2 separate regions of the Homo sapiens genome follow, and region 1 is linked to region 2. The links come from fine-mapping of genetic effects on gene expression. A gene starts in region 2. The other region holds a variant in brackets. All regions are shown on one strand. Distances are from middle to middle. Region 1 has its middle 26 kb from the start of ZNF300. Region 2 holds the start of SMIM3 (small integral membrane protein 3).

The links.
Region 1: its variant is fine-mapped to the expression of SMIM3 in whole blood (INTERVAL, PIP above 0.99).

The regions. Positions count from the first base shown.
Region 1 is chr5:150,877,137-150,880,048 of GRCh38, reverse strand. It overlaps a transcript of IRGM not described here. Among named protein-coding and RNA genes, the nearest start is that of ZNF300, 26 kb to the left of the region's middle. The variant T/A (reference allele first, on the strand shown) is at 1,638.
Region 2 is chr5:150,777,293-150,780,204 of GRCh38, reverse strand. SMIM3 (small integral membrane protein 3) reads right to left here and starts at 1,448. Exons shown (of 2, transcript NM_032947.5): 1 at 1,233-1,448. LOC124901110 reads left to right here. Exons shown (of 2, transcript XM_047417995.1): 1 at 1-298; 2 at 654-2,912. The coding sequence starts at 1,084. The coding sequence ends at 1,725. RefSeq lists an enhancer at 65-926 and a silencer at 1,364-1,553.

The DNA.
Region 1 (2,912 bases), 100 kb before region 2:
GCCCATCCACTAGCAAGCACACATCTTATATAGGGAAGAAAGTGGGAGACTAGAGCCTGCTGATCCCTCAACTAGTCTTAGGTCTTGCCTGCTGCTCACGTTTATGAGCAGCTTTTCATTCTGAGGGTAATTCTTGAGTTTAAGACACACCTTAGTCTTACAATATACTGCTTCAACACAAGCTATCTTTTTATCTGGTACTCAGCTGAAGAAGCCACCCTAAGAAGTAAGTGTACCCTTGAATTTTACCTTGGGCTCTTTCTCTGGAATCTCATGCCTTGGCCTACCCCATCACAATGAGCTGTGACCCACACTATGTTTTATAAAAAGTGATCTTAGCTGTTGCTTCTATCCTTAGTGTTCATTGTGTATTTTCACTGTAGAAAGTTTCTAAATACTTACATATTTCTGGGCCTTGTGGAATTCTCTGGAGTACTCTTGAGGTATTTCTCATGGCAGGCCAGCTGCAAGAGAGTGGGTAGGGAATGTGAGCCTTGTGGAAGTTATACCCCCAGTGCCTAGCCAGCACAGTGCCTGGCCAGACTAAGTACTTGGCAAGCATTACTTTTTAAATGGATGAATGAATACATTGCTTTCATTCAAAGAGGTTAATGATGACATATTCTTAACACATGAATAATTCTTTAGTGCTTAAATTACCAATAAATGCAAAGAGAATCTGAAAACAAAGATTTTTCTAATTTTTCTGATTGACACTGGTGTTTCAATGCACATTTATGTAATACAGACCTCATCTACATTTCTTACTTCTGATGGAAGCAAGTAAGCCAGTTTAACAAAAATAAACACTGGCATGCAATTAAATTTTTGGATAACCTGCACATCCTTGGAAGCTTCATTTACCTTTCCCTTTTTACTCATTACCTTTTCTTATGCATCTAACACTGACATCCATCTCAGCTACCATCAGCATTTTGGATTTTTCTTACTGATATGAACATTTTTATGCAGTTGTTTTTAGAATTTCAAGAGTCAAGAGTGACCTAAGTAATTACTAGGTGTTTTAACCCCTAGTGTGTATTTTTGCATAATTTAAAGATTCCAAGTCATTGAATTTTGCTAGTATTTTTTCATTTGCTTCATTAAATCAATTATACCTCTTGTAAAAAGTAAACTTTGTTTTCCTTAGAGCCCTGGAAACCAACAGGTATACCCACATTGCAGCCACTTATTTCTTTCTTACTGAAAGAATCCTAAGAGACAATAATAATTATTCTCATAACAAATTTTAAATAATAATAATATAACAACAATAATTATACATTTATCTTTTCCAATAATAATAATTACACAATAATAATAATTATATAGACCTTATAACAGTAATAAATATACATATTTGGATGCACAAATCAGATGTATTCAGAATTGGGAATACCCTTCAGTTTTACTACAATTCTACAAATTACCTATATCTAAATGGATAAAGATAAATTCTAAATAAATTTCATAGTGATGAGCTCAAAAAGTAAACCCTTTCTATGTTTTTATTTTAAGTGGAAAGTAATATGGCAAAAAAAGGTGGGAAGATGAGGAGAGAGGAGGAGGAGCTGGAAGAGAGGAAGAGAGGAAGGAAGAGGTAGAGGAAGGAAGAGAGAAGAAGGGTAGTCATTTAT[T/A]CCTGAAGACAATAATGGTGGTAAAAATTCATAGCAATGGCAACAAACACATGGAGCCCTGTCCTAAGTATGTCACATCTATTGATTTGCATATCTTTCACCACAATCTCATGAGGTAGAGAGTATTATTACTCCCATTTTACAGATCAGGAAGCTGAGTCAGGAAGTTGGGATCACTATTTGTACTCTCTAGCCTCACAAAGTTAGGAAGCATTAACAACAACAACAACAAAAAAAAAAGTTTACTATTTCCAAACTTTAAACTTACTAAAATCAGTGAAGATTTTTTTTTCTCACCTGAGCTGGGCCTTGCTATTTCTAGGGCTTGCGGAGCTGATCTGTATTTCTTTGTCTTGCTTTTCTCTCAGGATCCTTTCAGCAAGCAAGAGGTACGTGGCTGTGGTTTGGGTACACTTGTTGGTTTCTAGAGCTCTGAGGAAAACAAGGCTTGCTTTGTACAAGAAGCAAAATTGATTTAAACATGCAAACAAAAAAGTATAAGCAAATGAAATTCAATGACCTGAAATCTTTAAGTTATGCAAAAATGCAAACTAGGAAACTAAAACACCTAGTGGTTATTTAGGTCACCCGTGAAATTCTGAATAATAAAAAATAAAAATGAGGTAATTATTCAGAGGGCTTCATAAGGTTGCAGAGTGAAGTCACTGCCCTATAGGGTTAGCAAGCATGGTACCCAACCTATCCTCAGGTGTCACTGTCTTAAAACCTATGTGATCCTGGGCAGGCTACTTACCCTCTCTGTGTTTTGATTTCTTCATCTTTAAAAGGGGAATAATAATAACACCTACTACATTAGGGTTCTCTAGAGGGACAGAACTAATAGATGTATATATAAAGGGGAGTTCATTAAGGAGTATTGACTCACATAATCACAAGGTGAGGTGCCACAGTAGGCCGTGTGCAAGCTAAGGAGCAAGGAAGCCAGTCTGAATACCAAAGCTGAAGAACTTGAAGTCTGATATTCGATGGCAGGAAGCATTCAGCATGAGGGAAAGATGTAGGCCGGAAGACTAAACCAGTCTAGTCTTCCCACGTTCTTCTGCCTGCTTTAATACTGGCCTCACTGGCAGCTGATTAGAATGTGCTCACCCAGATTGAGTGTGGGTCTGCCTTTCCCAGTCCACTGACTCAAATGTTAATCTCCTTTGACAACACCGTCACAGACACACCCAGGAACAATACTCTGCATCCTTCACTCCAATCAAGTTGGCAATATTAACCATCACAAGTCCTCCCCTTGTCAACTTGAACCCA
Region 2 (2,912 bases):
CTCCATTAGGGTAATTCAGAGGGTCTCCTAACCCCCAGAGTACCTGTTCTTCCCGCTCCCACCTCCACCTAATTCAGGCATCCCCAATCCTTCCAAACTATGTGGCCACTGCAGTAGCAGCACGCATCATAGCAGATGTTCAAGGAATCTCTGATACTTGTGTGATTGCGCAGCCTTCACCACCACACCCTGGAGCTTTGAGGACCTTAGTATTCACCACAGATGAACCGGAGACTCCTCAGCCCCCAGGTGCAGCAGGATTCCAGCTGGTCCAGAAGAAACAAGTGCAGCTGCATAAGTAAGAGCCCAGCCTGGCCCTCAATCAGAATAACAGCCCCTGAGGTTTGTTTCAATTTGTGGGGGGGGCGGGGGGGGTTACACCTTTCATCCTTTCACTCAGTACATATGTATGGAGCACCTACTGTTAGCCAGGCCCTGCTCCAAGAGCTGAGAATGCCTCAGAGATGACGATAGACAGGCAGTCCCTACCCTCAAGAAACTGGCATGGGGGAGACTAGGGAGCAAAACAACCAGCAACTGGAACAACTACGTCCTCAGGAAAGGGACAGCTAACCAGCAGGAGGGAGCTTGAAGGAAGCCTTCTCTCCAAGATACTTTGCTCATGTCCTTTCTCCTTTGCTTTCTGCACGCAGAAAATGTTTTCCCAATTTCACTGATGGAAAAACAAGGATGGTGAAGCAGTTAGTGACAGAACCAGGGCTGGAACCCGCCACTCCTGACTCCAAACTCCTGGCGCCTTCTACACGGGGCCTCGAGAAAAGCGGGACAGGTAAGTGCAAAGACCCAAACCCAGCGCAGCGCCCAAGCAGGTGCTCAGGCCCGGGCGCTGAACCCTGACGCTGGGCCTGGAGAGCCAGGAGGTGGCAGTCTGCCCGAGGAGGAGGCTTCCCGAGAAGGCAAGGGCAGCGGACCCGGAGAGAAGCCAGTCTCCGAGTGGGGCTGGGGTTCGCCCACCCAAGCTCCGCCTCCCCCAGGCCCAAAATTCTGTGCACTAGGAGGCTCGAACTTAAGAGCTGACAGCAGGAGAAAAAGGAGGGGGTGAGGGCAAGAAATACAAAAGTGATGAAAAGGGAGAAATGGGGAGGAGAGACCGGACATAAAGAAGAACGTTGGGAGCCCGGGGAAAGGGGCCGCACTAGAGGTAGGTCGCGAATCCGAAGAGCTCCGCTCTGCCAGAGCCCCACAAACAATCCCCCGGTGGCCCCACTCACCCCAGATGGCGGCGAGTCTGCGGAAAGTTCCTGGGTCAGGGATGGCTCGGTGCTTCTCAGGGTCCCCAGGACTGCACGGGATCTGGCAGCTGGAAGCGACCCCCAGGCCTGGAACCTCAGCCCTAGGCAGCTCCTGGAACGTGCCCCGGCTCCTCCGAGCCCCGGGAGGCGGGAGAGCGCAGGAGCGGCCAGGACGCGCTGCTGGCTCTGGAATGCGCGGCTGCTGGGGACCGCCCCCGGAACGCCCGGTCCCGGGGCCCCGGCAACTCCAGCTCAGCTCCTCCTCCAGCGTCCCCTGCGGGCTGCGTTCGGGGAGAAAGGAACCTGCGAGAGAAGGGAGAGACCAGGGCGTCTCGGGCTCCCCTTCCACGTTGCCACACACTCGCCGCGTAGCCGTGGACATGTCGCTTGGCTTCTGAGGGTCTCCCCTCTCTGGATTGTAAACCGAGAGGGTTGGCCTAAAATGTGTCCTCCACGACCTTTCCAGCTATAGAGTAGACATGGGAAAGAAAGCCTAGCAAGTAGGTTTGGACAGAGGAGCCGGGACTCAGATCCTGCTTTGCGATGTCCGAAGTGTAGGGTCCTTCGGAGGCTTTGCCACTCTGTTTCATTCTCTGTAAAGTGGGAAAGGTAACACCTGTCTCCCAGTCCTGTTGTGAGGATTGGTTTAGAGGACCAGTGTGAAGCTGGTTGGTTCTCTGCCATAACATGACTTGGAGCATCCTGTTTATTTTGTGATAACAATGAAATAGCCCAATCCAAGGTGATCAAGAGCCCATTAGAATCCAGCATCTGAGAGGCTTCCCACGCCACTGTGGGTGGCCCAGCTTCCACGCAGGACAATGCCAATTCTGTAATCTTCTGCCCCCTCTATGTCATCCATGGAGTGAGGGGGGACTCCCGTCCCATGTTGGCACCCACACTTTTTAATTCACAGTGGTTTTCTTTAATCTTACTCTTCTGAAAAAAAGGAGCACAAGCCTTGACTATCAGTGAGACCTTGAGCAGTCTTGGAGCCCAGTAGTGTTTTGGAGGGTTTGGAAAGAGCCATACTGCCTTCCCCAGGCCTAAATTTGATATGGTGTGGGCCCCGAACTTAGAACTTACTCCATGCTGTTTCCTCTGATTCAGGGATGAGGTCAGCAGAAATGACCTCTAAATCATCATTATCACACGCCAGTTTCTTAAGGGAAGGACAGTGAGGATGAAGGGGATTCACATGAGAAATGATTTGAGAAAAACCCTAAGGGCTGTCACCCAACAACATGTTTTATTCAAAAGAGATAGTGTGGGAACCTAAAAACAAGGACAACCCAATTCTGAATAGTTTAATACAAAGCTCTCATTTAATAGTAAAAAAAGATTGAAGGAGGACAATCTTTTTTTTTTTTTTTTTTTTTTTTGAGACGGAGTCTCGCTCTGTCGCCCAGGCTGGAGTGCAGTGGCATGATCTCGGCTCACTGCAACAGGAGGACAATCTTAATATGACATTTTCCCTGGTTAGTGAAGGGGATGAGAGTTCCTTTGGGTGGACAACTGGTAACTCCATGTGCCCTGCTGTGAACATTGGCTTCCCTCTGGGACAAGGCAGAAGCTCAGGCCTGGAGCCAGCTGAGTCCTAGTCTCCCTTTCCATTTAGCAATTTATTAGTATCTCTTTAATATCGACTTGCCCTGGGAC